Linked DNA regions of Homo sapiens: region 2 is linked to region 1. The links come from fine-mapping of genetic effects on gene expression. Tissue or cell type: neutrophils. Region 1 holds a variant in brackets; the other region holds the start of a gene. All regions are shown on one strand. Distances are between the middles of the regions.

Region 1 (5,612 bases):
GATTACCACCACTCTGAATATTCTTTGCACCTTATTCCTTTGCTCAGTTACTTATTTTTTTATTTTATTTATTTTTGAGACAGGGTCTTGCTCTGTCACCCAGGCTGGAGTGCAGTGGTATGATCACAGCTCACTGCCACCTCGAATTCCTGGGCTCAAGCCATCCTCCCACTTCAGCCTCCTGAGTAGCTGGGACCACAGGTGCGAGTCACCACACCTGGCGAATTTTTTATTTTTATTGTAGAGATGGAGGTCTCATTATGTTGCCCAGGATGGTCTCGAACTCCTGGGCTCAAGCAATCCTCCCGTCTCAGCATCCCCAAGTAGCTGGGATTACGAGCATGAACCACTGCGCCCGGCCCAGCCTTGTTTATTTTTATTTATTTATTTATATTTATGTATTTTTATTTTATTTTATTTTATTTAGACGGAGTCTCACTCTTGTCTCCCAGGCTGGAGTGCAGTGGCGCAATCTCAGCTCACTGCAGCCTCTGCCTCCCGGGTTCAAGTGATTCTCTTGCTTCAGCCTCCCAAGTAGCTGGGATTACAGGCACCCACCACCATACCCGGCTAATTTTTGTACTTTTAGTACAGACGGGGTTTCACCATGTTGGCCAGGCTGGTCTTGAACTCCTGACCTCAGGTGATCTGCCCACCTCGGCCTCTCTGGGATTACAGGCATGAGCCACCGCGCCCGGCAGCCTTGATTATTTTTTAAAGTCTTCTTGCATATGTTTGTATCCTGAAACCAAATCTTTTATTATCTTTGTATCTCAGCTTTTTTGCAAGGTGGCTTTTTCCTATGGGGCTTTGGAGACTTTTTCAAGATTCTAGTATGGAATCTGTCATGCTGCAATTTAAGATTTTTTTCTCCTGACTTCACTCAGTTTTTAAATTTAAAAAAGGAGTGTGGCTAGGCATGGTGGCATGCACCTGTAACCCCAGCATTTTGGGAGGCTGAGGTGGGCGGATCACTTGAGGGTCAGGAGATCGAGACCAGCCTGGCCAACATGGTGAAACCCCGTCTCTACTAAAAAATTAGCTGGGCGTGGTGGTGTGTGCCTGTAATCCCAGCTTCTAGGGAGGCTGAGGCAGGAGAATTGCTTGAAGCTGGGAGGCGGAGGTTGCAGTGAGCCGAGATCTCGCCACTGCACTCTAGCCTGGGTAACAGGGCAAGATTCCGTCCCCCTCACACACACACAAAAAAAGTGAAAAGTTAGCCAGGCATGGCAACATATGCCTGTAGTCCCAGCTACTTGGTAGGCTGAGGCAGGAGGATCACATAAGCCCAGGACGTGCAGGTTGCCTGAAGCCATAATTGTGCCACCGCCACTGTGCTCCAGCGTGGGCAACAGAGACCCTGTCTCTAAAATAATAACAATAAATTATACTAATATAATTAATAATACCATTATTATTGTTGGTTGGATAATCTTGGGTTGCTTCTTTTTTTTTTTTTTTTTTTTTTGAAACGGAGTCTGGCTCTATCGCCCAGGCTGGAGTGCAATAACGCGATCTCAGCTCACTGCAACCTACATCTCCTGGGCTCAAGCAATTCTCCTGCTTCAGCCTCCCAAGCAGCTGGGATTACAGGTAATCTTGGGTTACTTCTTAGCTGAGCAACCTGGGGCCAGGGGCCCCAAACCCCCAGGTTCCAGTTCCCCTTTTGACAAATGAGGACCATGTTCGCACCCCCCATCATTGCAGAGGTTGTCCAGAAGCTGCAAAATAGGTCAGCAGGACTGAGACTTCTGGACAAAGAGAAGGCGGAGAAACATAGGCAGACACCCCGGCAGGGACCAGATCAGCGAGGCTGAAGGAGGCTTCCTTTAGCTGGGCGGCAGCGGAGTGGAGTGGCAGGAGTACTACTAATTTGCATGGTTTACCATATAGGGCCCCACTCAGCACAGGCTCTGTGCTGGTGCTCTGCAGAGAAAAAGACAAAAGTCACTCAGGGGGCTGACAGCCTAATGCGGCTCGAGGGCAGATGGTTGCTAGGGAAGAAGGGAGATGGTGAGAAGTATTGGAGAGACTCAAGAAAGCCGCCAGGAATGGTGACTCACGCCTGTAATCCCAACGCTTTGGGAGGCTGAGGCGCGTGGATCATTTGAGGACAGGAGTTCGAGACCAGCCTGGCCAACATGGTGAAACCCTGTCTCCACTAAAAATACAAAAATTATCTAGATGCGATGGCAGGTGCCTATAATCCCAGCTACTCGGGAGGCTGAGGCAGGAGAATTGCTTGAACCCGGGAGGCAGAGATTGCAGTGAGACGAGATAGCACCACTGCACTCCGGCTTGGGTGACAGAGCAAGACTTCGTCTCAGAAAAAAGTAATAATAAATAATAATAATAATAATAAAATAAAAATTTAAAAAGAATGTTTCAGGCCGGGCATTGTGGTTCACGCCTGTAATCCCAGCACTTTTGGGATGCCAAGGCAGGCAGATCACTTGAGGCCAGAAGTTCGAGACCAGCCTGACCAACATAGCGAAACTCCATCTCTGCTAGAAATACAAAAATTAGCCAGGCGTGGTGGCTTGCACCTGTAATTCCAGATACTTGGGAGGCTGAGGCAGGAGAATCTCTTGAACCCAGGAGGCAGAGGTTGCTGTGAGCTGAGATCACATCACCACACTCCAGCCTGGGTGACAGAGCGAGACTCTGTCTCAAAATAAATAAATGAATGAACAAATAAATAAAATAAAATAAAAATACAAAAATTAGCCAGGTGTGGTGGTGGGCACCTGTAGTCCGAGCTACTCTGGAGGCTGAGGCAGGAGAATCGCTTGAACCCGGGAGGCGGAGGTTGCAGTGAGTCGAGATGGCGCCACTGTACTCCAACCTGGGCAACACCAGAGTCTGTCTCTAAAATACAGTAAAATAAAATTAAATTAAGAAGAGTCGATGATCACCATGAAGGGGTGTAGGGACAATCCCTGGCATCAGGAAGTGCCACTACCTCCCTGAGATTCTGCAGACGCCAGCTGTCTGACCTGCCCGTCTGATCTGCAGAGAAGGGACGTTGAG[C/T]CCTGGGGTTCTAGCTGGAGTTTCTGGCTTTCTGAGAAAAAAAAGGCAAAATCCCTCCAGACCTGGTCTGGCCCTCTCTCCTTCCAGCTTCTGCTGGTGTTCACTCCCCTCCCCCACAGCCCAGGCCACCCCCACAGGAGCCCGGGACAGGAAGGGGTAAATTCTAGGACTGTGGATGTTTGATTATTCCCAGGACAATAGTTCTCTGACTTCAGTCATTAGTGACTTTTTTCTCCATCGCTGCAATCTCCCCCTTTGAACAACTGAACTATATTTTCCTTAGCATTCATCACTTCTGCATCTTGAATTTACTCATGTAACAAGGAGACTTGATTTCGGCATCCTCACTGAAAAACCCTCCTCATTGCCCCAGATAGTAGGGAAACCTAAAAATAAATATAAATATGAGGAACACAAAACCAAGTCCTTGAATTCTGGCTGGATACAGACACCTGCTAAGCCTCAGGGTCACGGAGGCGCTAAAGACATGTTAGTGCCCAGTGGAGACTTTCCCCTGGGCTCATCGCAGGGACTCCAGGGCTGGGCTGCCGGCCTGTGGATCTGAGTCTCAGCTGGGTGAGTCACTTGTGCCTCAGTTTCCTCCTCTGTCAAATGGGAATGACAACATCATTGCAGATGTTTTAAGGAGTAAATGAGTTAATATAGATTAAAAAAAAAAAGCACTTAGGACCAGACCTGGTACAAATTAAGTGCTCCATAAATAATAGCATTTTCTTGGCAGGATAGCGAGATCTCGTCTCTACAAAAAAAAAAAACACTTAAGGAGAAAACTAGCCAGACGTGATGGTGCACAGCTGTAGTCCCAGCTCCTCAGGAGGCTGAGGCAGGAGGATCCCTTGAGCCCTGAAGTTTGAGGCTGCAGTGAGCTGTGATGGTGACCCTGCACTCCAGCCTGGGTGACAGAGTAAGATCTCTTAAAAATATATATAGCGTTTTAAAAAATGATTACGTACCTCAAGAGACAAGCTAATCATATGATTTATCCAGAAAGGAAAGAACCCTCCTATCACATGATTCTCTGTTGATTAACGAAGTGCCCAGGGGCCTCTGAAATATAAGTTTCCCACAGGAGGAAACTGGCTTAGAAAGACCAGAAAGATCCGGGGGGTCTGCTCTGTGCGGTGAAGCTTCTCTTCTTGGCACCTGCCTGGCATCGGAAGAGGGCCCCTTCTCCCTCCCTGGGCTTTTATGTGGACACTGTAATGCCTCAGTTTTCTTTCTTTCTTTTTGTTTTTGACACAGGGTCTCACTCTATCACCCAAGCTGGAGTGCAGTGGCACCATCTTAGCTCACCGCAGCCTCAAACTCCCCAGCTCGGGTGATTCTTCCTGCCTCAGCCTCCTGAGTAGTAGCAGCTGGGACCACAGACGTCTGCCACCAAGCCCAGGTAATTTTTTTTCTTTTTGAAGAAACAGAGCTTTGCCATGTTGCCCAGGCTGGTCTCAAACTCCTGAGCTCAAGCGATCCTCCTGCCTCGGCCTCCCAGAGTGCTGGGATCACAGGTGTGGAGAAATAGGAACGCTTTTACACTGTTGGTGGGAATGTAAATTAGTTCAACCATTGTGGAAGATAGTGTGGTGATTTCTCAAGGATCCAGAACTAGAAATACCATTTGACTCAGCGATCCCATTGCTGGGTATATACCCAAAGGATTATAAATCATGCTACTATAAAGACATATGCACATGTATGTTTATTGCGGTACTATTCACAATAGCAAAGACCTGGAATCAACCCAAATGTCCATCAATGATAGACTGGATTAAGAAAGTGTGGCACATATACACCAGGGAATACTATGCAGCTATAAAAAAGGATGAGTTCATGTCCTTTGCAGGGACACAGATGAAGCTGAAAACCATCATTCTCAGCAAACTAACACAGAAACAGAAAACCAAACACCACATGTTCTCACTCATAGGTGGGAACTGAGCAATGAGAACACCTGGACACAGGGCGGGAAACATCACACACTGGGGCCTGTCGGGGGGTGGGGGCCTGGGGGAGGGATTGCATTAGGAGAAATACCTAATGTAAATGACGAGTTGATAGGTGCAGCAAGCCAACATGGCACATGTATGCCTATGTATCAAACCTGCTCGTTGTGCACATGTACCCTAGAACTTAAAGTCTAAAAAATTTAATTAATTAATTAATTAATTAATTTAAAAAGAAAGAAAGAAACCGAGCTTCGCCATGTTGCCCAGGCTGGTCTCAAACTCCTGAGCTCAAGCGATCCTCCTGCCTCGCCCTCCCAGAGTGCTGGGATCACAGGCGTGAGCCTCTGTACCTGGCCTCAGTTTCCTCATCTGGAAAACAGCAGGGGAAGATACTGCCAGCTGGGACGCAGGCTCTGCCAACTCTGGCATGCCAAAGCTCTGGGCACAGGGTGAGCCCTACCAAAGTGGGAGCCCAGAGCTATTTCTGACAAGGCCCCTGCGTGCCTGCCCAGGGAAGAGCCAAGTGGCCCCAGGCGAGACCGCCCCGCCCGGCTGCCACACCTTCCCCTGCACAGCAGCCAGCCTGGAACACACAGAGGCCAGAGGGTTGGTCAGAGCCAC
Region 2 (5,612 bases), 90 kb after region 1:
CTCTACTAAAAATACAAAAATTAGCTGGGCATGGTGGCAAACGCCTGTAATCCCAGCTGCTCGGGAGGGAGGCTGAGGCAGTAGAGTTGCTTGAACCCAGGAGGCGGAGGTTACAGTGAACTGAGATCGTGCCACGGCATTGCAGCCTGGGCAACAGACTAAGACTCCATGTCAAGAAAAAAAAAAAAAGAATAAGGTCCAGGTCAAGCACGGTGGCTCATGCCTATAATCCCAGCACTTTGGAAGGCCGAGGCAGGTGGATCACTTGGGGTCAGGAGTTCAAGACCAGCCTGGCCAACATGGTGAAACCCCATCTCTACTTAAAATACAAAAATTAGCTGGGCATGGTGGCACACACCTGTAATCCCAGCTACTCAGGAAGCTGAGGCCAGAAAATCGCTGGAACCCGGGAGGTGGAGGCTGCAGTGAGCCCAGATCCCACACTGCACTCCAGCCTGGGTGACAGAGCAAGACTCTGTCTGAAAGAAAAAAAATAAATAAAAAGAAGATCCAATGCTAACCATGATCTTCAGGGACCTGCCTCCCTCTCTCACCTGGCTCATCCATTCAGTACTTTATTTTCTCTACTTTAGCTTTCTCTACCTGTTCTCAGCTCCTGGAACACAGCAGGCTTCGTACTGCCTGAAAGACTGTACATCTGGAATGTTCTCTCAAGTTTCCTCCGCTACCCCACTCCACAGCTAGACCCCTTGTTTAGCTACGTACAACTCATCTTGAAGGTTCAAACATTTGTTCCTTTTCAGATGTGTTTCCTGACATCCTCCCCAAGTTCTCCTGTTCCACGTTCTCATATTGCCTTTGGCACTATTAATTTACCAATATTATTAGCTAGAATAAAGCCTCCACAGGGGCAAGCACTGTAACTATTTCAGTCCCACTGTTTCCCCATGTACAGGGTCCAATTCATTGAGGGCACCCCAGTGAAAATATGCCAAATAATCAACACTCCTCAAGAATGACTCAGTATAGCTAGCCTAAGAAGGAATATGCCCACGCACACACAAAACACAGTATGAGGCCAGGTATGGTTGCTCACGCCTATAATCCCAGCACTTTGGGAGGCCGAGGCGGGTGGATCACCTGAGGTCAGGAGTTCCAGACCAGCCTGGCCAACATGGTGAAACCCCGTCTCTACTAAAAATACAAAAATTAGCCGGGCATGGTGGCGGGCGCCTATAATCACAGCTGCCTGGGAAGCTGAGGCACGAGAATTGCTTGAACCCAGGAGGCAGAAGCTGCAGTGAGCCGAGATTGTGCCACTGCACTCCAGCCTGGGTGATGAAGTGAGACTCTGTCTCAAAAAAAAAAAAAAAAAAGACAATATGACACCATAAAAATCAAATATAAGAATAACTTAAAGTGCCTGTCTTTCATAAGACATAATCACACAAGTTTCAGGTACCTTTAAGAAACAATATTAATTCTTTTTAAAAAGGCAAGGCAAGCGCATATATTCTTTGTGGAAACAAACACCTCACTCGTAAAACTGAAATCTGATGCATGATTTTCCTCTGGAGTTAATTTTTTCCTGATTTCTCAGTAGACACGAGCTTTAACCCCATTATTAAAAAAGACATCCCACTTATGGCCAACTCAATTTGAATTTCCAGTATTAACAAAGTTTATATCGTCTTTTCCCTGAAGTTCCATTAGTTTTGAAGCTCTGTGATTCACATGCTTGGGGGAAGGACTGGAGCCAACTTGAAAAGATCTGAATAACAGTCTTAGGTTTTCTTGATAATAATATTTGTGAAATAACTGAGAAACGGCTTTTCTTAACCTAACAGTGAGAAACTTGATGCCCACAGCAGAAGTAAAAGTCGTCTCAAACATAGAAAATAAAGAAAAACAAAAACAAAAAAAATTAAGAACTCCTCCTTTTGTTGTTGTTTTTGTTTTTGAGATGGAGTCTTGCTCTGTCACCCAGGCTGGAGTGCAGTGGCACAATCTCAGCTCACTGCAACCTCCGCCTCTGGGGTTCAAGCGATTCTCCTGCCTCAGCCTCCCGAGTAGTTGGGATTACAGGCGCCCACCACTACGCTCGGCTAATTTGTGTATTTTTAGTAAAGACAGGGTTTCACCATGTTGGCCAGGCTGGTCTCAAACTCCTGACCTCAGGTGATCCACCCGCCTCGGCCTCCCAAAGTGCTGGGATTATAGGAGTGAGCCACCAAGCCTGGCCAAAAGCTTTCTTATGAGAAAGAAAAAAAAGAAGAAAGAAAAAGTTATGGAAAAGGAAGAGATGCAAAGCCAAGCTAACAGATATTAAGCTAAAAGACTTCAAATTGTCAGTCTCCAAAAGAAATCTCTCGTCATCTAATTCATTCCTTAATGGAGGATGCATTCAATTTTTTAAGTAAATTTGGCCAATCAATTAAACCAGTTTGCACATGTGGACCCAGACCTCACTTTCCAGTTGCAAAGCTAGATAATATTAAGTATCATATCAAATAAAACGTGAATTACTAATTCGCAGTTATCTTGCATACTGTAGGCAAGGTAGGGCCGTCTTTATGCACTTTCCCTAAAAATTGGGAAGGACAGGTGAGAGCTGGGGCCGGTGTCACCACATTTCTGAGCTGTGGGACCTGGACTGTTTGGGATTTCCCTTTTGACAGGATGACAGCCCTGTCTGCCCGGACGGGGGGTACCTGAGAGCGAGAGACCGGGCGGCGGGCGCCCAGATGCGAGGCCCTGACTGTGTGGGCCTCACGCCGGCCACCGGCTGATCGCAGGGAGGAAACCCCTCACACAGGCGGAGCTGTTCTAGGCCCTCCAGTCCCTCCCCGCGCCAGCCGAGCCCTCCCCGCCCTCCCCGCCCTCCCGAGGGGCCGGGCCACACCTGCAAGCCAGCCGGAGACACTCCCACCGTGCCGTGCCGCACCGCGCCGCGCCGCGCAGCACAGCTCAGCCGCCGTCGGCCGCCGCCGCGCGCACTTCCGCTTCCGGTCTCGGGGCCGCCGGGAACGGAAGTGGCTGTGGCTCAGGCTGTTGTGGCCAGGGTAGCCTTAGGCGGCGGCAGAGAAACTAACGTCTTCTTTAGCCTCCAAGGAGAAATTCTAGTATTCTTACCCGGGGGATGAGGTTAGGCTCTGGAGTGGGGTCCCACAGAGCATGGAGGGTGGTGCTGGGGGCGGAGCCTATGTCCGAGAGACAGGGATAGGGGTGGGGCTTAGGTCCCGGGGCAAAAGTGGGGCGGGGCCTGTGCGCGGGGGCGGGGTGGAGTGTGGCTTGCCCTCCGATGGCTGATGGGCGGGGCTTGCACCCCAATGGCGGAGTGGGCGGGGCCTTGGTTTGCAGGGTGGTAGTAGGGGCGGGTCGTGCGCCTCAGGGGCAAAAATGGGGCGGGGCTTGTGCTTGGGGTGGGAATGGGAGCTGAACTTGCATTCGGAAGGCGGGATGAGGGGACCTGGGCTTCAAGGGTTGAGAGGGGCACACCCGACCCCTCCCCGGGTCTCTTTAGGGATGCTCAATATTTAACTTACCCTTTTCTCCTTCCTTTTCCCCAACCCCTTCCACCTTTATCCATGGGCTTAATCCAATCCCCTACAAAAATATACCCATACTTAAGATTGTTTTTGTATATTTTTATACGGCTGACCCTTAGGCAACGGGAGTTGGGGCGCCACCCTGTGCAGTGGAAAATTCACTTCTTTTGACTCCCCCAAAACCTACCTACTAATAGACTACTGTTAACCAGAAGCTTTACCAATAACATAAAGTTAGTTAACACATATTTTGTATATTATATGCCATATTCTTAAAATAAACTAAGCTCAGAGAAAAGAAAGTGTTATTAAGAAAATCATGAAGAAGAGAAAATATATTTACTCTTCGTTACGTGGAAGTGATCGTAAAGATCATAAATAAACGTCTTCATCGTCAGCTTCACCCTGAGTAGGCTGAGGAAAGGGAGGGGTTTGTCTTGCTGTCCCAAGGAGGACAAAGGTAGAAAAAAATCTACCTATAAGGGGATAGCCACAGTTCAAACCCTTGGTGTTCACGGGTCAACTAACTGTCTTTATTCTAAAAATAGGACGATGTATTTTTGTTTCTTCTACAGCTTGCCCTTCTCACTAAAAATAAGATGTGTGAATCTAAGACATAGATCTGACTTTTTAAAAACTATTTATTATGTAGTATACATAGTACATACCTATGGGAAAAGTTCAAACGGGAGGCTCACTCTATTCCTAAATTTTCCTCCCCTGAAACAACCACTGTCACTAGTTCCCTGGTATTCTTTATATATCAAGCACATGTGCAGTCATGCACCACATAACAAGGTTTTGGTCAACCACGAAACACATACACAGTTGTGATCCCATAAGGTTATAATGGAGCTGAAAATTTCTTATCACCTAGTGATGTTGTAACTGTCACAATGTTGCAGTGCAACACATTACTCACATTTAAAAAGGTTTTAAAAATATGAAAAGACCGGGCGCGGTGGCTTACGCCTGCAATCCCAAGACTTTGGAGGCCGACGCTGGTGGATCACTTGAGGTCAGGAGTTCGAGACCAGCCTGGCCAACATGATGAAACCCCCAGTCTCTACTAGTAATACAAAAATTAGCTGGGCATGGTGGCATGCGCCTGTAATCCCAGCTATTCGGGAGGCTGAGGCAGGAGAATTGCTTGAACCCAGGAGGTGGAGGGTGCAGTGACCCAAGGTCTTGCCATTGCACTCCAGCCTGTGCAACAAGAGCAAAACTCCATCTCAAAAAAAAAAATGAAAAATAGCTTATAGAATAAGGATATAAAGAAAGAAAATACCTTTATGCAGTACAATTTATCTGTGTTTTAAGCTAAATGTTCTTACAAAGAAGTTGGGCCGGGCGGGGTGGCTCATGCATGTAATCACAGCACACTTTGGGAGGCCAAGGCAGGAGGATCGCTTGAGTCCAGGAGTTCCAGATGACCAGCCTGGGCCACATAGCAAGACACTGTCTCTAAAAATAAAAATAAAAGAAATGTATCATTTAAAAAACAAAATGTACAAAGGTTCAGTTATTTCAGATAAATAAGTTTTGGAGATCTAATGTACAGCATGGTGACTGTAGTTAACAGGAACATATTATGTACTTGAAATGTGCTAAGAGGGTAGGTCTTACGTGTTCTTACCACCAAAAAAAAAAAAGCAAATATGTGAGGCGATGGATGTGCTAATTGCTTCATTATTTCACTGTATGTATATCAAAACATCAAGTTGTACACCTTAAATATATACAATTTTTATTTGTCAACTATAACTCAACAAAGCCAGGAGTAAGAAAGGAGTCAGTGGCCAAGCATGGTGGCTCACGCCTGTAATCCCAGCACTTTGGGAGGCTGAGGCAGGTGGATCACCTGAGGTCAGGAGTTCAAGACCAGCCTGGCCAACATGGTGAAACCCCGTCTCTATTAAAAATACAAAAATTAGCCGGGCATGATGGCAGGCGCCTGTAATCCCAGCTACCCGGGAGGGTGATGCAGGAGAATCACTTGAACCTGGGAAGCAGATGTTGCAGTGAGCCGAGATCGCACCATTGCAATCCAGCCTGGGCAATAGAGCTAGACTCCGTTTCAAAAAAAAAGAAGTGAGAACATCC

Evidence for each region. PIP is the estimated chance that this variant, and not a neighbour inherited with it, causes the effect.
Region 2: it holds the start of ZNF333, and the variant in region 1 is fine-mapped to the expression of ZNF333 in neutrophils (BLUEPRINT, PIP 0.95).

What each region holds. Positions count from the first base shown.
Region 1 is chr19:14,777,083-14,782,694 of GRCh38, reverse strand. It overlaps ADGRE2 (adhesion G protein-coupled receptor E2), which reads left to right and starts at 4,135. Exons shown (of 21, transcript NM_013447.4): 1 at 4,135-4,438. The variant C/T (reference allele first, on the strand shown) is at 3,031.
Region 2 is chr19:14,687,402-14,693,013 of GRCh38, reverse strand. It overlaps ZNF333 (zinc finger protein 333), which reads right to left and starts at 2,966. Exons shown (of 12, transcript NM_032433.4): 1 at 2,864-2,966. RefSeq lists silencers at 2,623-2,992, 3,323-3,372.